Linked DNA regions of Homo sapiens. The protein of the gene in region 5 interacts with the protein of the main gene of each other region in a biochemical or structural test. Each region holds a gene or a part of one and is shown on either strand. Other genes may lie near its edges. The genes, in order: CTNNA2, EFNB2, CD226, ABCC4, DLG2, JAM3 and ABCC6.

The links.
Region 1: the proteins of DLG2 (region 5) and CTNNA2 interact in a test that uses a peptide from one of them, tested with the Homo sapiens proteins (one large-scale study listed by IntAct).
Region 2: the proteins of DLG2 (region 5) and EFNB2 interact in a test that uses a peptide from one of them, tested with the Homo sapiens proteins (one large-scale study listed by IntAct).
Region 3: the proteins of DLG2 (region 5) and CD226 interact in a test that uses a peptide from one of them, tested with the Homo sapiens proteins (one large-scale study listed by IntAct).
Region 4: the proteins of DLG2 (region 5) and ABCC4 interact in a test that uses a peptide from one of them, tested with the Homo sapiens proteins (one large-scale study listed by IntAct).
Region 6: the proteins of DLG2 (region 5) and JAM3 interact in a test that uses a peptide from one of them, tested with the Homo sapiens proteins (one large-scale study listed by IntAct).
Region 7: the proteins of DLG2 (region 5) and ABCC6 interact in a test that uses a peptide from one of them, tested with the Homo sapiens proteins (one large-scale study listed by IntAct).

The regions. Positions count from the first base shown.
Region 1 is NC_000002.12:79,908,051-79,911,550, forward strand, and holds part of CTNNA2 (catenin alpha-2), read left to right. Parts: intron 1-1,543; coding exon 1,544-1,747; intron 1,748-3,500. UniProt on the Homo sapiens protein: May function as a linker between cadherin adhesion receptors and the cytoskeleton to regulate cell-cell adhesion and differentiation in the nervous system. Required for proper regulation of cortical neuronal migration and neurite growth.
Region 2 is NC_000013.11:106,494,163-106,497,662, reverse strand, and holds part of EFNB2 (ephrin-B2 isoform 1 precursor), read left to right. Parts: intron 1-1,822; coding exon 1,823-1,915; intron 1,916-2,668; coding exon 2,669-2,782; intron 2,783-3,500. UniProt on the Homo sapiens protein: Cell surface transmembrane ligand for Eph receptors, a family of receptor tyrosine kinases which are crucial for migration, repulsion and adhesion during neuronal, vascular and epithelial development.
Region 3 is NC_000018.10:69,937,874-69,941,373, reverse strand, and holds part of CD226 (CD226 antigen isoform a precursor), read left to right. Parts: intron 1-3,500.
Region 4 is NC_000013.11:95,291,452-95,294,951, reverse strand, and holds part of ABCC4 (ATP-binding cassette sub-family C member 4), read left to right. Parts: intron 1-3,500. UniProt on the Homo sapiens protein: ATP-dependent transporter of the ATP-binding cassette (ABC) family that actively extrudes physiological compounds and xenobiotics from cells.
Region 5 is NC_000011.10:83,454,673-83,458,008, reverse strand, and holds the end of DLG2 (disks large homolog 2), read left to right. Parts: 3' UTR 1-2,836; downstream 2,837-3,336. UniProt on the Homo sapiens protein: Required for perception of chronic pain through NMDA receptor signaling. Regulates surface expression of NMDA receptors in dorsal horn neurons of the spinal cord.
Region 6 is NC_000011.10:134,067,888-134,071,871, forward strand, and holds the start of JAM3 (junctional adhesion molecule C isoform 1 precursor), read left to right. Parts: upstream 1-1,184; 5' UTR 1,185-1,196; coding exon 1,197-1,272; intron 1,273-3,984. UniProt on the Homo sapiens protein: Junctional adhesion protein that mediates heterotypic cell-cell interactions with its cognate receptor JAM2 to regulate different cellular processes. Plays a role in homing and mobilization of hematopoietic stem and progenitor cells within the bone marrow.
Region 7 is NC_000016.10:16,153,995-16,157,494, reverse strand, and holds part of ABCC6 (ATP-binding cassette sub-family C member 6), read left to right. Parts: intron 1-1,640; exon of another isoform or gene 1,641-1,703; intron 1,704-2,463; coding exon 2,464-2,622; intron 2,623-2,700; coding exon 2,701-2,867; intron 2,868-3,500.

The DNA.
Region 1 (3,500 bases), on a different chromosome or scaffold from region 5:
TTACAACAAACTTTCCCAGAGCATACAGCTGGACTTCACTTTGTAATAACTTAAGCAGTTATTGTATATACTACATCAGCATAAAAAATCCATAAAAGCATCTTTTATCTCCCCTTCTTTTTAGCATTAAGTACAGTAGTAGGCATATAGTAGGTCTTCGGCAGGTGCAGATTAGCAATAGAATAACTACCTATTCTCATTTATGTTTCGTATTGTATTTGTAAATATGGTAAATTGTTCTTTTCTTACAACTCTTTAAATTTGGTGAATATATAAGGAATAAGGAACGTCAAAAGAAGCAGTAACAGAGTGGCAATTGCACCATAGTATTCTACAGTTGGAAGACCATTTGCCCCATCATTGCCACTCTGGTTCTTGGACCTCTGAGAGTGCACCCCCAATGAAGCACACCATTTCCTGCAGCAGGTCATTCTACCTTATCATTGTGGAATGAACTTCTTTGCTTCAGGCAGAAAAGGCTCCCCAAAGGAAACCAGCCTTTGGTCAATGTCACCTTTGCTTCTAGACTTCACACAGTTAATGATCACATACCATCACGCTCTACCCTCCTCATTTGCTGGGAGTTTTCCAAGTTCTGTTTCTATCTTTCTGACTACCCTTTCTGTCTTCCTTTTTGATTCTGGTCCTTCTGTATAGGGGTCTTCTCTGGCCTGCTCTTCTGGCTCTATTCACTTTACTAGTATGTAATTCACTAGTTTATGTCCAAATACCCCTGACATTTACCAGATCCCTATAAAGACTGTTATAGCTCCTGAATTTTGGACGCATATTTCCATCTACCTCGGGGCATCTCTGCCCACATGTTTCCAGGCTCCTAAAACTTGGCTGGGGAAATGCTAAGCTCATGTTCTATGTGACGCCTTCCTTTTAGGAAATATCACTATTTTCCTCTTATATAGGCTCCTTCCAAACAGGTAAATACCTTTATAAGGATACTGTCAGTTATTTGTGACAAGTCTCATACACACATTAGGAATCCTTTTCTAGAACACTAGCATAAATTAACCTGTACTGAATATGCCTGTTGGGTGTTATGTGCCCAAGTTTCAAAAGGCATCCTGCCATGGGAATATCTGCTTCTCATGAGGAGGATTAACGTGTGTGTATACAAGCCACAGCTAATGCATAATTAAGATGTTGATTATTTATCATGTTTTAGCTCTAAAATCTTTATATAATTCCCCAAAGCATTACACTGAAATGTTCTTTCCTTAAAGGCTACGTATTTTAAAAATGCCAAAAAAGTGTCCTAATCTTATTTGAAAGCTCTTCCGTTGAGATAGCCTTTGCCAAGAACATATTCTTCAAATAAGATGTGCTCTTTTAGCTGAAGATTACATTTAGGACAAAATATCTAGAAAAAGTTAATACTTTGTCAAGGCAACTTTAGAATTTGAGTAACCAGTTTCTCCTCCTTGGGGACTCCTGTTCTTGCCTCAGATATTTCTGGTTTCAAAACAGGGTGCCAAGGCAGACCTCTCTTCTCTGCTGATTTTTGTGTGTGTGTGTGTGATACTTTCAGAATAAGATTATCCTGGACCCCATGACGTTCAGCGAGGCCAGGTTCCGGCCGTCCCTGGAGGAGAGGCTGGAGAGCATCATCAGCGGCGCAGCGCTGATGGCCGACTCCTCCTGCACGCGAGACGACCGGCGCGAGAGGATCGTGGCGGAGTGCAACGCCGTGCGGCAGGCGCTCCAGGACCTGCTCAGCGAGTACATGAATAATGTAAGTCTTGGGATCTCCATTCTCATGTCTTGGTGGATTCTGTTCTGCAATCGTGTTGCTCTTTTGGAAGCATAGATAGCAGGAAAAGAGAACAGACCAGGTGTTTACCAAAGAGAGTCAGGTGAAACCAAAGAACTGCTTTGGGAGAGCGCGTGTCGTGTGTGTTGTTTCTGAATCCATTTTTTGTTTGTTTGTTTTAATATGGAACAGGTGGATGGAGAATAAGCTCTTTCACTTTTTACTTGGCTGATTTCTTCTCGGTCATTTTAGTGGCTGCATTTTGAAGTAGGTAAGATTTCAATTGGTAAAGGTAGATGATTGATGGAAACAGCTGAGGATATAGTAAGTCCTCTGTTACAAAGAGCACTTTTAAACCTAAGGATAGCTGTAGATGCGAATCTTCACCCCTAAGAGGCATTAATAAATCTACTAGGTTTAAAAAACGTGTGGATAGGGTTGTTTAAGGAAAAGTTCTAAATGTAGTAAAATTTGGAGGTGTTTTATTGATTCATAGTCAGGAATTGCTTATAAGAGTGAGTCTCTTAAGTTTTCAAATAGGTATGTATGACTGGTATCTAATTGTATTTTGGCACATAATAGCCATCCTCTCCTATAGTTGTAAAATGTGACAGTTTCTGTGTACCTGTAACCTGCAAGAAGGTGATGAAACTCATATTCTTTGCCTTGAAAGGCACTAAATTATGGCTGTATTGATTTGCTACATTCATTCAGCAGAGGCGATGCTTGCAACAGTGGATGATCTGTGCTTCCCCCTTTCCTGGACTTTCGGGTTTGAGATAATTTAGCACAAATTGGGGAAAAATGTAGATAAAGTGAGGTCTCGATATTACATTTTGAAGGAATGCCCTGTATAGCTACCAGGTGGGTAACAGAGACACTGAAAATCTGCTCACAGCTACTGAAGTCCATGTTAGGTATTATTAGAACACCCCGAGGCAATGCTGAAACAAAGCAGCCATTCAGTGTCTCTCCCTCCAGCATCTTACCACTCCCATCATGAGTAAAAATATGTAGCTAACAGACATGCAAGCAAGGAATGAGTGTTGACAGTAGCAGTGCTCCTCCTGCTGACCCTCCAGAGAACTCACTGAGAAAGCAAAAAGATGTCAATGAGAAAACCTAACAAACTAAAAAAAACAAAATTTGTTTCCTTTCCATGAACCTTCAGATTCTTTGATTTTGGAAGACTTGGCCTTTTTCAGCACACAAAGAATAAAATGTGGATGCATCATGTGGCACCCAGCTGCTTATGAGGACGTCTCTATAGGACCCTGGATGACCAACACTTTCTGTAATTTTGATCCATGGTATTACGTAGGGTGCAGCTAGAAATGTTGACCCCACAGTCTCCCAGCTGAGTGAATCTTTTGAATAGCAGATGTGTCAACGAAGAATGCTTATGAAATCTGAGACGCTGTTTGTTTGTTCGTTGTTGTTGTTAACAAAATAGCAAAGGGCTAATTACATGGATGTGGAATTTGGTTTTACATTAAGGCACGCTAGTGGTTCTATTAATGAATAGTTACTGCCAAAGAAGGAAGTAGAAACTACAGAGATCACAGTGATGGTTAAGATCTCAATATAAATAAATCAGACAAAAAAGTATGTTCTTCTAAATAGAAATCACAGAACGTGACTAAATAAGAGTTGATCAACACGTGACATGTAATTTTCAGTTTGGTGTCTAGAATCCTGCCAACTAGAAGTTTTTCTTTCAGTGTAATCTCATGCA
Region 2 (3,500 bases), on a different chromosome or scaffold from region 5:
CCTAATGTAAATGACGAGTTAACAGGCGCAGCCCACCAACATGGCACACGTATACATATGTAACAAACCTGCACGTTGTGCACATGTACCCTAGAACTTAAAGTATAATAAAAAAAAATTTTAATAGCCCCATTAAATAATTAAAAAGATTTTTTTTAGATTCACAGAAGTGTACAAAATTTTTAGGTTTTTTTTTTTTTAAGCTGTCTGCTGAATAGTTTCTTAATGGTCTACAATGTTTGTATCTACAAACAGATACTGTCTGCTTCTTACTACCCTTCCAAGACAAGTATTATTATGGCAATTATTGCCCAGTTTCCCGGGAAAAATTTATCCACAGTTACAGAAGAATGAGATGCAATTGTGAGACTGTAAAGTTTAAGCAAGCACTCAGAGAAGCACAGTGATATGTATGCACAGAAGAGGCAGTCTTTGTTTTGAGGAAAACAGTGAAAGTAAAGTTAATTCAAGACCACAAAGACAAGTAAATAAGTGCCTTATTTTTGTAGTTAATATAATTTCAGTGGAATGCATATTTCTACCATAAATGCATATAGAACTTGTTTGCTGACCTACTGTTTGGAAAACAAACAATCCCATTAGAAGAATGTCTTTGGGATTTATTTTTACCAGAAAATCAATCCTTTTTTCAGTCCCTTGCAAAGTACAGTGTTACAAGCCAAGACTTTGATAATCAGGTAGAAAATGGATTTAAATTGCAGAAATGTATATGAAACACTTTTGTTCCTTGCCCCTTGAACTTTAGGGGAATGAAAATGTCTAGCACTCTCCACCTTCTTTTCTCTCCTGGAACTTGAACTGTAATTCAAAGCCTGTTTCTCATTAAAGTACCTGGCAGCCTATCTCTTTACAGCTTGAGTTACAAAGCTATTCAGAGACCTCGCTGGTCTAAAGAGACAGAACAAGGATGTGTTTAAATAGAGCATAGGCTGTTGAAAAAAAAAATGCTGAAAATGGTAAAATGATTCTGTCCTTCCTTCCACTCCTCACTGCTGAGGTGGAGAGGGAATTCAGTTGGTGAACACCAGCAAGTGGCTGGTAAAAGTCCCCACTTTCTCTCCAGGGCTGCCACAGGACCCAGAATGAGTGGTGGGCATGTGTGTGAACCCTCTATTCAGCCAGAGTTTTCCCGCAACAGGTAGTTTGGTTGAAGAGGTTGACTAAGGTTGACATTGGCAGTAATAACACGTATGTTCTTCTGATTTACAAAACGATGGAGGAAAAAGGGGAGATTTTGAAGACCTGATTTCTGGTATACTTCTTAAGCATGCATAAGGCTGAAAAAAGAAGACAAGGGTTGTGGGAGGCTCCTGGTCTAGTGTTTACAGAACTTGGATGCTTGACAAACAGAGCGTCAAGCTAATTGTTCTTGAAGCAGGAAATCTGCAGTGGAGGAAGCAGGTGTGGGGGGATGATTACCACGTTTGGAAATGGCTGCATTAACTATTTTGCTCTTCTGAGTTTGGCCCCAAAAGAGTCCATAGACTTTTTGAAGGATGCCATCCCTTTTATTTATAGACTAACATTAAATCAGTCATTTGTGAAGGAAGGAGAAAGTGCCTAAATAAATTTGGAGTCAGATAGCATACGTGCGGCAGTGTTTCCGATATCCATTTCTCTTTATTTCTTTTTCTTTTTCTTTTTGGCTTTCAGCATCCCCATACTTTCAGAAAACTTGTGACTAAGAGTGAATTCTTATTTTTCAAATTGTTTTCAGACATTTCATGTTCATGTAAACTTGGCTTATTGATTTCCTGATTTTTCTTTATTTTTTTGTTTTGTCCATTTTATTTTTAATCAGCTACATCAAATGGGTCTTTGGAGGGCCTGGATAACCAGGAGGGAGGGGTGTGCCAGACAAGAGCCATGAAGATCCTCATGAAAGTTGGACAAGGTAAAGACCATCTGCTGCTTCATGACGCCACTGTGACCTGGTGTAGCCCCCAGCTAGTATGGTGCTAATGTTGCCGATGCCCACCTTCATTCGCTCTTCTTTTTAGTTTTCAAAGCAAACCCTTCTGCACTTTGAGCCACTGACAGATTTCCTCAAGTCAATGTACTAAGCTTTTATTGGAGATCTAAGAGTTAAGATCAGCAAGGTAGAATGTCTATTGCCATAGATAGATAGATAGATAGATAGATAATAGATAGATAGATAGATAGATAGATATTTCTTTTTAAAAAGCAAAACACTTTGGTTCAAAATCAAAATATCCAGAATGAAAACTAAAAGCTTGTGCAGTTTTGCTCATTTCTGAATCTTGACTACAGAAGAGTTTTGTTCATTGTGACTTTTCCAATATAGATAACCTATTGTGCAGAAAGAAATAATTATTCTTCTAATTAAAAATTGGTATAGTAGTCAATCAACTTGCTCAGTTAAATTGAAATGTCATCTGCAATGCTTTGCCTGCCAAATGCAAGAATCCCTATAGTTTCCACAGATGGCCTCACGTTCTAAACCTCTGAAATAACTAGTATAACCATTTTGTTTTAAAAGAAAAATTATATTCTTGTATTTCACAGTACTTTGCATAAAGACTCTTATGTTCATTGCTATTCATGCCTGTTGAAATATATATGCAGCTCCTAAAGCTAGATATTGTCAGATGTCTGTGCCGTAATTAATCATTTGTTTTTCATATAGATGCAAGTTCTGCTGGATCAACCAGGAATAAAGATCCAACAAGACGTCCAGAACTAGAAGCTGGTACAAATGGAAGAAGTTCGACAACAAGTCCCTTTGTAAAACCAAATCCAGGTATAACAGCATGATCTGTGTGTATGGAGGTCTGTGGGTACCACATTCTTAGTAGTATCTTAAAAGGTAGGGCAGAGTCTAAAGACTTCTAACCAGTTAGGATTAGCTGGAAGTTACAGTGATCAGGAATCTTTGCTGTCAGTGAGTCATTATTAATTACACTCAATAAGAACAAAATAACTCATTCCAATGAAAGTCATATATTCAAAGGAGTAGAGTTCATGAGCTGTAAGTGCCAGTTATTAGAACTACTCTGTCAGGCCAAAGGTTTCATTGGCTGACATTTTATCAAGCTGGTTGTCAACTCCAGCTTAAAGCTGATGTTAATGTATATGTAATTAATGTGCTAATCCCTCATCTAATTATATCTAAGCCACAGAGGGTTTAATTGATCCTCTTCTAAATTTTAAATGGTAACATTTTTAAATATTGCATAATAGTATTTTTTCAGGTGGTTATCGTTATTTTGTTTCACATTTTCCATGTAAAAGAAAATATTAAACAGGTCCCTGACAAAAGTGTAGAATACCAGATAAAATTGTCCGTCGTTGACCTTCGTTTTCTTAACAGTCTTGGAACAAATAGTTCTGTATTTGTTACCATGCTAATGAAGGTTTTATAGAGTAGCTGTTGAGCAGACATCAGCAGTTTTGTATTAGGATTGTTGTGTGCTTGCTTGGTCGTTGTGCAAATTTATCGTCTGCAGCAATATTCCATC
Region 3 (3,500 bases), on a different chromosome or scaffold from region 5:
GTGTCTGTGGCTTCTCCAGTTGCATGGTGCAAGCCGTCTGTGGATCAGATTCAGATTGTGGGGTCTGAAGGATGGTGGCCCTCTTCTCACAGCTCTACTAGACAGTGCCCCAGTGGGGATTCTGTGTGGGGGCTCCAACCCCACATTTCCCTGCTGCAGTGCCCTAGCAGAGGTCTTCCATGAGGGCTCTGCCCTTGCAGCAACTTCTGAATGGACACCCAGGTGTTTCTGTACATTTTCTGAAGTCTAGGCAGAGGTTCTCAAACCACAGTTCTTGACTTCTGTGCACCCGCAGGCCCAACACCACGTGTAAGCTGTCAAGGCTTGGGGCTTGCACCCTCTGAAGCAACAGCCTGAGCTGTATGTTGGCCCCTTTTAGCCGTGGCTGGGACATAGGGCACCATATGCAGTCCCGAGGCTGCATAGAGCAGGGGGTCTTAGGCTTGGCCCAGGAAATCACTTTTCCCTCCTAGGCTTATGATGGAAGGGGCTGCCATGAAGGTCTCTGACATGCCTTGGAGACATTTTCCCCATTGTCTTGGTGATTTACATTTGGCTCCTCATTACTTATGCAAATTTCTGCAGCTGGCTGGAATTTCTTCCCAGAAAATGTTTTTCTTTTCTGTCGCATCATCAGGCTGCAAATTTTCCAAATTTTTTATGCTCTGCTTCCTCTTGAATGCTTTGCCCCTTAGAAGTTTCTTCTGCCAGATACCCTAAATTATCTCTCTCAAGTTCAAAGTTCCACAGATCTCTGGGGCAGGGGCAAAATGCCACCAAACTCTTTGCATAGCAAGAGTGACCTTTACTCCATTTCCCAAAAAGTTCCTCATCTCCATCTGAGACCACCTCAGCCTGGACTTCATTGTTTATATCACTGTCAGCATTTTGGTCAATGTCATTCAACAAATTTCTAGGAAGTTCCCAAATTTCCCACATTTTCCTGTCTTCTTCTGAGCCCTCAAAACTGTTCCAACCTCTACCTGTTACCCAGTTCCAAAGTTGCTTTCACACTTGTGGATATCTTTACAGCAACCCTCCACTCTCTGCTGTACTCATTTACTGTATTACTCAGTTTTCATGCTGCTAATAAAGACATACCTGAGACAGGGTAATTTATAAAGGAAAGAGGTTTAATTGATTCTCAGTTCAGTATGGGTGGGGAGGCCTCAGGAAACTTACAATCATGGTGGAAGGGGAAGCAAATATGTCCTTCACATGGTAGCAGGGAGAAGAAGAGTGAGTGCCCAGAGCAGGGGAAGCCCCTTATAAAACCATCAGATCTCATGAGAACTAACTCACTATCATGAGAACAGGATGGGGGAAACCACCCCCATGATTCAGTTATCTCCACCTGGTCTCTCCCACGACACGTGAGGGTTATGGGAACTACAACTCAAGATGAGATTTGGGTGGGCACACGGCCAAATTATATCATATGATCATGGAGACTGATAAGCCCAAATTTGCAGTGTGGGCTTGCAGGCTGCAGACCCAGGAGAGCCGATGGTACAGGTGAAGCCCAGGTCATCTGCTGCAGAATCCCTCTTGCTTGGGGAGGCTGGTCTTTTTGTTGAATTAGGCTCACCTACATTATGGAGGCAAACTGCTTATTCAAAATTCACCAATTTAAATGTTAATCTCATCCCAAAACACCCTTCAAATTGACACGTAAAATTAACCATCATACCTGTTTTGGAAAATGATATGGCATTAGCTAGTTAAAAACCCCAAATCCTATGATCCAATAATTCTACTCTGTTTGGTATCCAAGAGTTCTCTCATTATAGGGAAAATTCCTGACAATATTTATAGCAACAGTGATTGCAATAGCAAAAAATTGGTAACAACCCAAATACCCATCAACAGTAGAACCGAAAAGCACACTGAGGTCTATTCACACATTAGGATACTCTACATCACTAAAATGAGTGAATTATCACTTGCTCACCGACATGGATGAAGCTCATGAACTTTGTGTTGAAAGAAAAGAGCAAGTTACCAAAAAAAATAGGTAAACTAGGGTTCCTTTTCTTTAAAGGTTTTAGAAATATGCATAATTAAACAATACGTTATTTATAGATACAAACGTGGTAAAACTATAAAGAAAAGCAAAGTTCAGAAACATGGTAGGTGGGGGATAGAATAGAATCAGGAAGGGCTGAAAGGGTCTTTAAGGCTCATAGTCAGGGTGTTTTCCTTATACAGGTGTTTTATTTTGCATTTGTCTCAAAATGTTTTAGAAGATTTCTTTCAAATCTACTGATTTCTTTTTCTTTTCCTTTTTTGAGACAGAGTCTCACTCTGTTGCCCAGGCTGGAGTGCAGTGGCATGATCTCAGCTCATTGCAACCTCTGCCTCCTGGGTTCAAGTGGTTCTCCTGCCTCAGCCTCCTGAGTAGCTGGGATTACAGGCCTGCATCATCACACCCAGCTAATTTTTGTATTTTTGTAGAGATGGGGGTTTTGCCATGTTGGCCAGGCTGATCTCAAACTCCTGACCTCAGGTGATCCACCCCACCTTGGCCTCCCAAAGTGCTGGAATTACAGGCATAGGCCACCTTGCCTGGCCAAATCTACTGATTTCTAATGGTGAAAAGAGATGTGATTGCAATTTTTGAGCAGTTGAAAGCTCTAAGGTAAGGATGAAATCTTCATTCTGATATGGCCTGGGGGCCAGGTAGAGGTAAGTTTCAGCAATGGTTTCAAATTTTTATGATCCAAGGACTAAAAAATGATGATTTTAGTGAAAAAGATGTGAAATTAAGAGACCAACTTGGCTAGCAAGAGTGGAATTAAGTCTGTTTCAGGTGTATTAAATTGTAAAGTAGCCTTTGACCAGCTGACAATTGAAATTATGGAACAACAAACCAGGATTGAAAATATCCAATTTGAAGTCATCTGAATGATCATCCAGCACATGTGGATGGATGGGGTTAACTAAGAAAGTACCAATGGATGGGGGCAGAAGTCTAAGGTCATAGCTTGTGGCTTGGAGGATGGTCACATTGTAGTGTGTTAAAGAAGGTGTTCATGTTAAAGAATGTAGAGGGCATAGAGAAAAGAGGGGGAGAGTTGGGAGGGAGAGGAAAGTGAACAGGTGAATTATTGATGTGAGAGCAGAAGACACATAGAACTCATATTTATAGTAGAGGGTTAGATTTTCTTGCTCCACACATGCAGGTACTTTGTGTTGGCTGTATTGTATGTTTGCTGACTCTGTGATCTCCCATATTCCAGTCCATTTATCTCAAACTGGGCACAGAGATGTTCCTCACTGTTTCCCTTTAAGAGTCTCATTCTCTCCCAGGTGGGATGAGGCTCCTTATATGCCATCCATGCTCATTCTTAGAAGGCTCTTATCTCTACACCCTTCAGGGACAAGTGTTCTCTGTCCAGGTTCCCAGCAGCTGACATAGCAGCCAAAGTTTTCTTTCATTCTTGTATATATCTGCTGGTTAGTGGCACTAAAGAGATTCCTTTAATATTAAGGGCTCCAGA
Region 4 (3,500 bases), on a different chromosome or scaffold from region 5:
ATGGAGTTTCACTCTTGTTGCCCAAGCTGGAGTGCAGTGGCGTGATCTCGGCTCATTGCAACCTCTGCCTCCGGAGTTCAAGCGATTCTCCTGTCTCAGCCTCCCAAATAGCTGGGACTACAGATGTGCGCCACCATGCTCAGCTAATTTTTTGTACTTTTAGGAGAGATGGGGTTTCAACATGTTGTCCAGGCTGGTCTTGAACTCCTGACCTCGGGTGATCCACCCACCTGGGCCTCCCAAAGTGCTGGGATTACAGGCGTGAGCCGCCATGCCCAGCCTGGACTATGTTTTCTACCCCAACCTTGTGGTCAGAGGTGACCATGAAACTGAGACCTGGCCAATAGGAAGTGGTTGCAAAAGGTGTCTCGCTTCCACGACTGGAACACAAAAACCAGCCCCATGCAACGCCTCTCCAGCTGAATAAAGAGGCCTCCTGGAGAGGAGGAGGACTGAGAGGAGGCCGAGCCGCAAGATGGTGAAAGTCCAGCTAGGAGTAAATGTATGGTGTTGTTCACCACCCTAGATGGCCCAAAAGGGGACTATAGCATGACAATAGGCATGGTCTTGGTTTCTTGTTTTCTTTTTTGAGACGGAGTCTATCTCTGTCTTGCAGGCTAGAGTGCAGTGGCGTGATCTCGGCTCACTGCAACCTCTGCCTCCCGGGTTCAAGCGATTCTCTTGCCTTAGCCTCCTCCCAAGTATCTGGGATTACAGGAGCTCAAAACCACGCCCGGATAATTTTTTATTTATTTATTTATTTTGTATTTTTAGTAGAGAAGGGGTTTTGCTGTGTTGGCCAGGCTGGTCTCCAACTCCTGACTTCATGTGATCCACTGCCTCGGCTGGTGATTTTGAATTAAGCCATTGAGAATCAGGGCTTGTTTAATAGCTAGCATTATTTGCACGATACAGTGGCTGCCTCCCTCATTGTGTGAGCTCTTTGAGAACAGGAATGGTACTTTATTGTAATGGATTTGCACCTGGCAAGAAAGAAGGCACCCTGCCTTCTTTCATGGTGGCACATGCCTGTAATCCCAGCTACTTGGGAGACCGAGCAGGAGAATCGCTTTAACCCAGGAGGTGGAGGCTGCAGTGAGCCAAGATTGCACCACTGCACTCCAGCCTGGGCTACAGAATGAGACTCTGTCTCAAAAAAAAAAAAAAGCAAAAGAAAACGTAGTCCAGGCTGGGTGCGGTGGCTTATGCCTGTAATCCCAGCACTTTGGGAGGCCGAGGCAGGTGGATCACAAGGTCAGGAGTTCAAGACCAGCCTGGCCAACGTAATGAAACCCCGTCTCTACTAAAAATACAAAAATTAGCTGGGCGTGGTGGCATGCACCTGTAGTCCCAGCTACTCGAGAGGCTGAGGCAGGAGAATTGCTTGAACCCGGGAGGCAGAAGTTGCAGTGAGCCAAGATCACGCCACTGCACTCCAGCCTGGGCAACAGAGCGAGACTCCATCTCAAAAAAACATAGTCCGTGTGTCCAGCAGTCGCTGCTGCAGGAGTTCATCCTGAACCCGTGTTGGGTGTGCTGGAGTAGAAGTATGGAAAAGCTGTGTGAGGGTGGGGATTTTGTTTTTGTTTTTGTTTTTTGAGATGGAGTCTCTGTCGCACAGGCTGGAGTGCAGTGGCATGATCTCGGCTCACTACAACCTCCGCCTCCCGGGCTCAAGCGATTCTCCTGCCGCAGCCTCCCAAGTAGCTGGGATTACAGATGTGCACCACCAGGCCTGGCTAATTTTTTTGTTGTTGTTAGAGACAGGGTTTTGCCATGTTGGCCAAGATGGAGATCTCTGGGGAGGGGTTTACCTTCCTGTTGGAGCTTGGATGGAGAAGGTGGGAAATCGTTCCTGGCAGGGGATGAGATGTCCAGGTCACAGAACTGCAGTTGGAGAAAGTGTTGCCTGAGACGTGTGGCGAATGACCACCCCTCAGTCGCTATGTCGTCCCTGCCAGCCGGTAGCGTTTGTTACACCCAAGGTTGCCCTCCCCTCTTTCATCCCAGCAGATGTTCAGACTTTGCTTCTCCCACTTCCAGCCCCTTACTCATGAGTACTTACAGCCCTTTTGTGGCCTGCGACGTAGCTCCTTGTTCCATTTCTGGGTTCCATGACCACTTCCGTGCTGGTCTGTTTCAGGCCTAGTCCCTGTCTGCTCTTTTCTCTGCGCTAGCTCCTATCTTCCCCTTTTCCTTAGTGTCATAGAATTAGTGGGTTGAAAGGAAGAGATCTTCTAGCCCACACTCAGTACAGGAATCCCTTCCAGATACTGGGCAGTGGGGAAATGCATTATGTGACTCTCATGACTTTAGATTCGAATGCCAGAATTATGTTGTATTGAGCCACAGTTTTCTTTCCATGCAATTTCTACTTGTGTTTACTTACTTCTAAGAAAAGCATTACAGAATTTAATGAAGCAAAGAATGATCTGTGAATCAAGCAGCTCCTAGAACCAAAATAGGTTCAGAGCCGCTCTCCTTTGTTTTTTTGTCAACACGCAGAGCAAGTTGGCTACCTCCCTTCATATGCTCGCCTCATAGTATTCAAAGACAGCTATCATGGCCACATTAAATCTTTGTTTCTTTGTTTGAGACAGGGTGTCACTCTGTCACCCAGGCTGGATTGCAGTGGTGCGATCTCAGTTCACTGCAACTTTCACCTCCTGGGCTCAAGCCATCCTTCCACCTCAGCCCCCTGAGTAGCTGGGACCACAGGTGTGTGCCAGCATGCCCAGCTAATTTTTTATATTTTTTGTAGAGATGAAGTTTTGCCATGTTGCCCTGGCTGGTATTGAACTCCTGGGCTCAAGTGATCCTCCCGCCCTAGCCTCCAAAAGTGCTGGGATTACAGGCATGCGCCATGGTGCCTGGACAGGAGTTTATTTTTGACCCTGTTAAGTTTGAGATGCCTGCTACACATTCAAGTGGAGATGTTGAATAGGCATTCAATTGGTCATGAGTTTGGGGCTCATGGAGAAGTTTATCTTATTATTATTATTTCTTTAAATGGAGTTTCACTGTGTTGCCCAGGCTGGCGTGCAGTGGTATGATCTTGGCTCACTGCAACCTCCACCTTCTGGTTCAAGCAATTCTCGTGCCTCAGCCTCCCGAGTAGCTGGGATTACAGGCACGCGCCACCACACCCAGCTAATACTTGTATTTTAGTAGAGATGGAGTTTCATCATGTTGGCCAATGTGGTCAGGAAGTTTATGTCAATTTGGGCATCATCAGTGATACATGCAGTTGAGCTATATTGGACACATGGCCAATTGACCTCACAGTCCGCAGGGCTTGTCCCCATGTAACTGCTCTTCTATCCCTATGCAAATTCATTTTGTAGATGCTAACGTTTAGCAGCTCATTGTTGCTGTTGAAAGTTCTTGGAACACTTTCGTAGTCTGAATGCTAGAAAGGATGGGTCCTAGGAATGTCCTCTAGGTTGTGGCAGATCCACTAATCAACACTGTGGTTGCTAGATTAACTTGGCCACAAGTGT
Region 5 (3,336 bases):
AATGAGAGTCTCTTTCCAAAAACAGGCATTGTTCATCTTACGCTAAACATCATTGTCTGCCTGGCTACAGTCACCAAAACAAAACAGAAATGCAAAATTATGCATCTTCCCATAGTCCTGAGGCTTCCTTTGCCAATGGAAGGGCTAGCAATGCATTCTCCCTCTCATGAAAGTTAAATTTCCAGAGACTTCCTTAGATTGCTCAAAATGTTAAAGATATGTCCATGTCTGCAATTCGCCAGTTTCAGGTCAAGGCCTACTTTCATCAATATTGCTCCCAGAAGTTTTCTGACACCAGAATGCCATTCCTGATCCCAGCTCTATTTTTAGGCCACCACGATAACTTCTTTGGTTTCTCAACTGAGCATGCAACCATTTATTTAAAAGACTGTCATTAATGAGTAGATGTTTTCGCGGGTCGTGTGATGTGCTTTCCATTTACTAGTGTTGCTGTGGCTAAGTACAATCAAATTGAACCACCAACCCTTGGTTTTGTAGTAATATAACTATTTATTTTCCTAGTGTAGATGCTTTCAGATTAGAATTGGCATTTGCACTGATTTTTTTATGTAGATTTATATAAATATATAGATACATATATATTTGCTTGAAGAATCACCAAGCAAATTGGTGAGAGGGTCTTTTCCAATAGAATTTACACCTCCATTTGTTGTGTTGTCTTGCACTTCCCAATGTTGATGTCTCTATGGCTCCAATGAACTGGTGTATTTTGCAGCAAATCTGATGACTTGTATGGAAATGGCATGAAAGTTACCCAGATTACATCTGGTGCAAATGCACTCGGAGCCTGGGGCCAGACTGGTGCTAACACTGCAAACTTTGTCCAGAGCTCTCTCCAACCTGAAGGCTTGCTGGGGGTGCAATGTCACCTTCACACATGCTGGGCCCTTTCAGAAAAGTGCCAGATCGTGTAACTGGTGCTATTTTTCATGCTCTGGTACAATGTGTAGCACCACGGGGGTCTCAGCTTTACCAAAATCAAAATTCCATTTGTCAGCTAAGTGCAGAGGCATTTGTTTTTTGCTCTCCTCCCACAGAATTGTCGGCCATTTATTTGCAGGCCTTTTGCGGGATTTCTTGGCTATTTATTTGCAGGCCTTTTTTCCCAGCCCCAAATTCTTGGGTTGGCTCTGTCTGCTTAAAGAGCCTGTCTTCACAAAGCTGCACTCGGGTGCCTCTGTGCGCTGTCTTAGATCCTACTGCCGGCCCTTCAGGACTCCGAGCCAGGAAAGAACTCTCCAACCTCTGGCTCGAGACTCTACTTTTTTTCTCATTCTTTTCCTTACTCTCCTCCTCCTTCTACTTCCGACTAATTCCATCTCTTTTTTTTTTTGTTCCTCTCCTTTTCCTATTCCTCCTTCCCACCATCTCTGAGTTGTTGACTTTCTCCTATAATCCTTCTCTATTCCCTTTCTCTTTTTGTCCACCTCTCCTTTAGTCTCTGTTTCTCTGCCCTTCTTATTCCTCTTCTGTCCTTTCTCCTCTCCTCAAATCTCTGATCATCTTCTCCCGTACATCCCTGTATTGATTTTTCTGTCCTCTAAAGGGCTCATGGCTGATTCAGACAGCAAGTCCATGCACTGGACTAATGACACAAATACTTTAGGTCGCCGTTTCACCTACTCAGCCCAGAAAGTAAAGCTGAGCGTGAGGCCCTGACCTGGAGCCTGCTCCAGCCCGCCTCCCGGAGCCAGCCTGCACCGTTGCCCTGGCAGCGATGATGCATGTGCTGTGGGCCCTGCCGGCGCCTGAGTGCCTCTGCCTGAACACTGCTCCTAAGCGAGCCCACTCCCAGCACTACCGCATGGCTCTGAGGACATTTTCTTTCAATAAAGGCAGACTCTGGCCCCAATTATTCTGATAGCAAACCTCTTCCTCCTCATTGAAGCCATGCCATCACCTTGGTTTGGAGAGAGACATTTTTTTCCCATTCATAAGCTTTCTTTTTCCCATTTTTATGTGAAGCCCCCTCTGCTTTTCAGCTGGTGATTGCTCTGGTGAGACTGAATGGACTTGCTGGTGAAATGAAATCTCTTCTTTCCTGTCTTGGTCCTGCCTAAATTCCTACAAATATATTTAAGCCAAGGACTCAGGCTAATTCCTAAGTTGATCACATTAATTTGTTACTCCTAGAGGGAAAAAGATCAATTCCCTTGAAGCATGTGGAGTACCTCCTGTGACAGCTGACTTGCCAGGGGACTCCCTACAGAATTCTGTGATATACATTTTACTTCTGTGTATGTATGGTATATATGGTATGTATACCATGTACACACGTTACATTGAGTATGAATGACTGTGGTTGGAAACACACACACACACTCAAGTCTGTAAATATCCTTCCTCACTGAAACCTGTGCTTTGGAAATCATTTCTTGTACAGCTGTGCAGTTTCTTGTAACAGCTGAGGACAAAGCTAAGACAGGCGGACAATTTAGACAAAGATCATCTAAAGAGTATAGTATCTCCCTAGCAACTCATGAGGACAGACAACCAAGTGGCAAGGTTGACTCCCAATGGGATGGCAGACTTTTCTTCTCTCCTTTTTGAGTTTGTGTTTCCTAAGTGTTTCTTAACTTCTGAGTGCACCAGGCTGTACCCGTTAGATCCTTTCAATATGACAGTTTTGTGCTTCTCTCTGACAGGATGTTTCTCCACCGAGCTGTAGCACAGGATGGGAGGGAGGTGGGAATACTCCTTGCCTAGGCTGGAGTTTACAGAGACACTGCACAGCTTACACTCCTGTTAAGTGTAAATATTCAACACTTCCATTCCATTTGTGTAAAAAATAAAGCACACACGATTATAAAATCAAGATGTATATTTCATACTCAGTGTGTCTGTGCATATTTATTGCGTTTCTAGTTGTCAGCGGTGGGTGGCCCCATTGTAAAAATGCCTGATAGAGTGTTTATAAACATGTCATGGTTTTATTATAAGATATAAATATTAAAACATTTTATACTTTATGGCAAATGATTTTCTCCCAAAGCATAATTTGTCTTATTTCATAAGGAATAGAATCACTCATGTCTATTTTTATCAATTTTGTCTCTGATTCCAGAGCTAAAATGCAATTAGGGTGGGTATGCCCTGAGAAGTATTGGCACTGCTGAGAGGAAGTGAAAGTGCTGTTTTTGCATATTCTTAAATATTTGGTTACCATCTTGCCTGCTTTTAATCGGGATTTTTCCAAAAGTGAACAATGTATTAAAAGATAGATTTTTAAAGATGCTCACAGCTATGTGAGGGGAAAAATCAATTTCCCAGTGTCAAACTGTGGGATTCCAGAAGATATTAAGGATACAGAAAAAT
Region 6 (3,984 bases), about 51 Mb from region 5:
GACCTGGAACATAAAGAAGATTTATGAAAGGAAAGACAGAATCATAGTAGGTAATTGAGTTATTTTTTAATTTTTATTCTGTCTTTATAAGATTTTTGAGAAGGTAATCAATTAACATAAAGATCTGAGCAGTTATAAAGATTTACAAAGAAGATTATACAGTGATGGAAACTGAAGCATATTCTTGGCAACAATCTCAATCTATTTCACGTTTCCCGGCTTTTACATATATAAATTTGGTATACATAATATGTAAATATACTTCTATTTTGCATGAAAACTAAAAATACTAAAAAAGTAGCATGAGTATATGAAAAAGTTAAACATTAAAAATATTAGTTGGAAACTGGCTTATTTTACTAACAATTATATTCAGAATTCTGTTGCTAGACTGCTGTTTCTGGGAACATTGGAGGTGTACTTTCTATACTTGCTAAAATACAAGCTTTTCAAGTATTTTCCATAGTATTAAGTGAGACTTTAAATACTCTTGCTTTTTTAGATCTAATTTCTGCTTTAATTTATCCTTCTCTTCATTTTTCCTGTTTGTCCTCATCTTACCTGTTCTTCCCTGGTTTTACTATCTCCCAGTATTCAGAAATCAGAGCAAATAATTAGTCTGCTTTTCTGCAGAATAAACTATTGGGTATGCCATCATGCTTTTGATCTACCACATAAACAAATTATTTTAGCAAGACATCACTTTTATATGCTGTATAATGTATGTATTGCTTATGTTTTAAGCAGATTTCAGCTCTTTTCCTTCCATCAATTTGGAATTGGGGGCCCAAAAGATGTGAAGGCGATAATGCTTCCAAGATAACTGGGCTGCATCCTTATTTGTAAAATAAGAAATACTTTATTTCCCAAATTTTAAAGGAGTGTTCCTTCTCCGACCTGTTGTGATGGATTTATTCTATAGCTATGGAAATATACCCTGCTTCACTCTTGTACATACTTCTTTACTCTCCTCCCGCCAAGTTCATTGAAAGAGAACCCATGTGCCGGTCCAGAGCATCGCTGCATCCGTAAGCAGCTAGACCTCAGCTTCCTCTGTCACCATGGTGCCGGCTCGGCTGGGCCCGGCGGTCGCCATGGTAACTGGGGCGGGTCGCAGGGTCCTGGCAGGCTGGGCGCATGCGCGCGGGGACTACAAGCCGCGCCGCGCTGCCGCTGGCCCCTCAGCAACCCTCGACATGGCGCTGAGGCGGCCACCGCGACTCCGGCTCTGCGCTCGGCTGCCTGACTTCTTCCTGCTGCTGCTTTTCAGGGGTGAGTTTGCGCGTTTCCGCTGTTGGGAGACTAGGGTCTGGGGGCGACGGAAGCAGAGCGGGCCGAAGCTGCTGGAGCCGGTCCGGGCGAGGATAGCGGTCCTGGCTCCGAGGGCTCCCGGGGTCCCGGGCCGGAGGGGCGGCGCGCGCCCGCGTCCCCGCAGCCAGGGCTGGGACTCGGGCCTGGCTAGGGCGGGGGCCCTGGGACGCCCGGCAGTTGGACCGGGGCGGGGAGCTAATTTGGGATGGGGGGCCCGTCCCAGGCAGTGAGTCGGTCCCGGACAGCCGTCGGACCCCGGGGGCGGGCTCTTCTCGGGCGGGGTCCTGTGCTGGGCGGTGGGCTCATCCCCCGGGTGGGCTCCTCCCAGGCGGGGTCCTGTGCTGGGCGGTGGGCTCATCCCCCGGGTGGGCTCCTCCCAGGCGGGGTCCTGTGCTGGGCGGTGGGCTCGTCCCCGGGGTGGACCCCTCCCGGGCGGTGGGCACGGCCCTCTGGAGGGAGCGCGGCAGCTGCGGCGTGGGCGCTGGAACTTGCTGGAAGACCCTGCGCAGCAGTGCTGTGCTCTCCAGAAGGGACGGTGAGCGGGGGACGTAGCTGAGGACCGGCGAGGCAGAGCTCCGAGGCCTGGCGGGCTGCTTGGTCACAGCCCTCTGGGGATCTGCAGTTCATTTGACTCGACACAAAGGAACTGCTTTTCTTTTACAGAAATAAAATGGATATCAATCCAGTACCTTTTTTGTCTCTGGCCTGGCCGAGGAGACCACGCAGACTCTTATCCGGAAATAGCATTCGGGGCATTTGATCAAGACACACTAATAAACTTGATAGTTTTGTGCATTTTCTTTCCCTCTGTTTGGAATTCTCATTAGATCCACATTTTCCTGGACAGTTGTACAGAGGACTAAAATAGCTTTCCTTTAGTGAGCTTGTACTGTCTACTAGGCACTTTGGAGCCATTATCTCGTTTACTCCTTTCAGCAGCTCTGTGAGATAGGTTTCATTAATCCATTTTCAGAGTCAAGTCTAGTCTGCTTTCCAAGGCTGCATTCTAAGTAGTGAAGCCTCAACTTCATATTTACCTAAAGCAGGACACCACACTCTTCCCCTGGCAGCCATCCGCAGGTAACCAGACCAGGACCTTTTTCGGTTCTTAGATTATTTTATTGTTTGAATTGCCACTGTCATCCCATGATGTTTTCCAGAATATACAAATTAAAACACGGAGGGACTGTTTAGGAGTGAAGGTGGACAGATTTTGGAAAACAAAGCATTCCTGTGTTTGGTGCTTTATGCTAATGGGATGCTCGTGATGGGCTGTGACAAAAGATGAGTTTTAGCGTATAGATTATGTACGCTAAGGCAAAGTCTGTATACTTTGCCTGAAAGTGATTCCCAAAACCAAATGCTGTTGGGAGATAAGTGATCAAAGGCTAGCCAGGGGACAAGGGTGTCAGGAATGTCCAGCACCCGCTGTGTTGGTCACACTGACACTGTCCTATTCACAGCCTGGAACAACTCTCTATTGTTGAAAAGATCTGTTCACGTGAAAGTTTGCAGTTTTTGTTGCAGAAGCATTTGGCAGTTTAGCTCAGGAATGAATTTCAACTTGGTAGTTTGTTAATAAAACTAGAAAATGCAAAGAGCTTCACTTACCCTTAACCTCTGATTTCCTTCCCCTAAGGGACTAGTTTTGTGGCTTTTTTGCTGGTAGGGGCTGGGATTCACATGCAGAGCGTAGGAGGAAGAATCAAATTTTGCAAACTAGTTCTAATGACAAATAATCGAGGTAGTAGGATGTATGAATCCACTTTGAAGGCGTGTAGCTATCTTTTTTTTAGTAGGGGCTCTTTTTCCATTATTTGGTTTATGCTTTAAGCTACCCTAAAACTGTTCTTCCAGAAGTCATGACTACTGTGTCCTTTTTATTTTTTATGATTATTCTCAATTGCTATTACTATTTATTTTCATCTTAAAAATTTTGGTTCTTGATATAACAGCAAACATTTCTTTTGTGGTTACCCTTTGCCAGGCTCTGTTACAAGAATTTAATGTTTGCTAATTTATTTAATCTTGATAACTCTAAGAAGTCGTTACTATTGTTGTGCCCTTTTGTGGATGAGGGAACAGAAGTATGGAGAGATTCAGACCCTTGTCGGGAGTGTTATCCTGTGCGTTTTAAATGGGAAATCCTTCATTATTTGTGTTAATCCAATTTTTAGTTATTTGTATTATTCCATTTGACGGTGGAGTTCTTTTAATGGATCAGTTTAAACAGATTATCAAGTTTTCAACACTATGTGGTTTGTATATAAAATATTCTTTTGTTGACTCATGACAGGTGCAGTTCAGCTTTACAAATGTTATGCCACATGGCTTTTTTGAATGATTGTGTACTCATTAGTGTTAGGTTTCCAAATCTTTGATATTCTAGAGAGAAGTGCCTTATTTAGAATTAAAACAGCAACAGTTTTCATTCTTCAGATAAGACAACTTGTGTGCTGAAGCATATCAAAATCTGAAAATCAAAATTTCTGGGAAATTTTTGAAAAAATGTTTAATTCTTTTATTTGCATCTGTTTGGACTCCAGTAACGTTTTTTAGAATGGCATATTCTTTTATGTTCTAATTCTTAATTATCTGGCAGATATAATCATTGTCAGACTTGTGTGTATGTTTTAAAAAAAACAAAGAACACCTGTCTTGAAAGCATGCAGT
Region 7 (3,500 bases), on a different chromosome or scaffold from region 5:
GCTTCCATCTGGTGACTTCCTCATCCACCTTGGTGTCCCCAGATGAGGAAGCAACTCCGTGACTTCCTTCTTCCTTTAACATTAACCCAGCACCTAATATGTGCTGGGCAGTGTGTTAAATGCTCCAGGTACATTTTCCAGTTTGCACAAATGGGATATTTGCTTTCAGCTGGGAGACATTGGGAAAAGCACTTCATAGCTCAGTCTCAGTTTTCCCATCTGTAAATTGGGACTGGTAATACTGATCTCTGAGTTGTTGTGAAGTTTGAGTTAATACATAGAACATGCTTAGCTCATAGAAAGTGCTCCAGAAATGTTTACTAATGCTTTTATTATTTGCGTTTTCACTCTCACAACAACCCCTAAGTGAGGTGCTAGTACTATCCCATTTTACAGATGCCTCATCAGGCCCCTTCACTGAATCCCTTTCCTCCCTCCCTCTGAACCTACAGAGGCTTCCTCCCTGTCCTCTCCTTGTCCCCTAAAAAGCAGTGGATCCTGTCTCACCAGCTCCAATCTGCTCTCCTGTGATTTTTTTTTTTTTTTTTTTTTGAGACAGAGTCTCACTCTGTTGCCCAGGCTGGAGTGCAGTGGTGTGACCTTAGATCACTGCAACCTCCGCCTCCCAGATTCAAGTGATTCTCCTGCCTCAGCCTCCTGAGTAGCTGGGATTACAGGCACCTGCCACCACACCCGGCTAATTTTTGTATTTTTAGTAGAGACAGGGTTTCACCATGTTGGCCAGGCTGCTATGAAACTTCTGACCTCAATCACCCCCCTCGGCCTCCCAAAGTGCTGGGACTACAGGCATGACCCACCATGCCCAGCCATCCTGTGACCTTTATCAGCATGAATGACACTGCATGTCATTCCCCTGCTCAAAACCTTCTACTAGTTCCAGCTTCCCTTGGGGTAAAGTGTGAATTCCTGAGCTTGGCATTCAAGGCTCTACCCAACCCAGGCCCTGCCAACCTCCCCCTCTCATTCATTGCTCTGCCAGGGCTTAGCCAACATTGTGGAGCAGCTGCCTCTCGGCCAGGGGGGCACATGGTGCTGTGAGCTCCATGAGCTTCTAGTTTTGGAAACCCACTTGGTGTGGTTTACCTGGAGTGTTCCCCTTCCTTGAACTCCTATTGATCCTTCAAGCTTCCATGCAAGTATCCCTTCCTCCATGAGGTCTTCTCTTATTACCTCTGTCAAATCCCAGGCAGCATGAGCAGCACTGCCTTGCTTCCCTTAATTGCCAGAGGTCCAGACCTTGATAATAAACAGCATTGTTGGCTGGGTGCTGTGGCTTATACCTGTAATCCCAGCACTTTAGGAGGCCAAGGTGGGCAGATCACTTGAGGCCAGAAGTTTGAGACCAGCCTGGCCAACATGGTGAAATCCCGTGTCTACTAAAAATACAAAAATTAGCCGAGCATGGTGACAGGCACCTGCAGTCCCAGCTACTAGGGAGGCTGAGGCAGGAGAATTGCTTGAACCTGGGAGGTGGAGGTTGCAGTGAGCTGAGATCGCACCACTGCACTCCAGCCTGGGCAATAGAGCAAGACTTTATCTCAAAAATAAATAAATAAATAAATAAATAAAGCATTGTTCATCACACTGTATTACATTTACTCAATTGCACTGTTTCCTAGACCGGATGATGGGCACACTGGAGCAAGGACTCTTTAATTTCTATACTTCCGGTGCCTAAACAGGTACTTGGCATACAGTGGGGTGACCCACATGTTTCCATCATTAATTAAACAAATAATGTTGAACCCACACCATGTGTCAGACACTGAGGATGCAATAGTAGCAAGAGAGATAAGGATGGAGGGTGGATAACAGCATGGGAGATGGATAACAGAATGGACACATGGATAAGATGGAGGATGAATGGAAGGATGGATGAGGGAAGGATGGACTGGATGGATGGATGGGAGAAAATAAATGAATGAAAGGATTAGTGAATTGATGGATGAATAGGGAAGAAGAAACGAGAGACGGATAGACAGATGAATGGATGGATGAATGGAATGGGGTGGAAGAGAGATGGAGGGATGGGATTGAGGATGGATGATGGATGGATGGATGGCAGGATGGGGTGGAAAAAAGGATAAGGGATGGATGGACGGACAGACAGATGGATGGGATGGGGTAGAAAAAAGGATGAGAGATGATGGAGAGGTGTAAATAGAAGGATGAGGAAAGATGGAGGAACTAAAGGAAGGGTGGGGAGAAAGATGGGAGAGAGATATCAGGATAAGGGAAAGATAGAGAAGAACACAGATGGAAGACTGGATGGATTGATGGGTGGATATATAGAAAGGTAGACAGATGGAAAGAGAGATGGAAGGTAGACCTTTACACAATGAGGGATGGATAGACAGATCTCGGGTACAGCAGAAAGATCTCCCCAATAAATGCCCACAAACCCTCTGGTCAGAGCAGGCCTTTCCTCCCAACCCCGGGCAGGTGGGCATCGTTGGCAGGACCGGGGCAGGGAAGTCCTCCCTGGCCAGTGGGCTGCTGCGGCTCCAGGAGGCAGCTGAGGGTGGGATCTGGATCGACGGGGTCCCCATTGCCCACGTGGGGCTGCACACACTGCGCTCCAGGATCAGCATCATCCCCCAGGTGAGGCTGGTGGAGGGGGTGGGCAAAGATGGGAGGCATGGTGGGACCCGGCTCTGACCCACCGCCCCTCCCCGCCAGGACCCCATCCTGTTCCCTGGCTCTCTGCGGATGAACCTCGACCTGCTGCAGGAGCACTCGGACGAGGCTATCTGGGCAGCCCTGGAGACGGTGCAGCTCAAAGCCTTGGTGGCCAGCCTGCCCGGCCAGCTGCAGTACAAGTGTGCTGACCGAGGCGAGGACCTGAGGTATGGTCGTCCCACCATGGCTGGGACCTGCAGGTGGGAGAGGAGGGGATGGCCATGCCCTCCCCAAGGGCCTTCAGGAAATGCCTCCCCCGATAGGATTATCACTCTGTTACATTAATAACCACATGTCTCTTATCTGCAATTCCAAGCTCTGACACAGTCTCTGAATACCAAGGTTTTCCCCCCTAAATTAGCAGTTAGTCTTCTATATTTACTTGGTGGCAAAACCCAACCTCAACTGACACAGGGCTACTGATAGCCTTTATTGCTCTTGCTCAGTATTTATTTTGCTATGAAAATATTGTTTGATATCGGGTGGTAACCTCACCACTCACTGGGACTATAATATAGGATTTTTTTTTTTGGTAAATGTCAAGTGTGGACTGGGCACAGTGGCTCATGCCTGTAATCCCAGCACTTCAGGAGGCTGAGAGAGGAGGATTGCTTGAGCCCAGGAGTTCGAGACTAGTCTGGGCAACATAGCAAGACCCTATCTCTGTGGACAACAGTATTAGCCAGGTATGGTGGCATGCACCTGTAGTCCTAGTTACTTGGGAGGCTGAGGTGGGAAGAACGCTTGAGCCAGGGAGGCGAAGGTTGCAGTGAGCCGATATTGCACCACTGCACTCCATC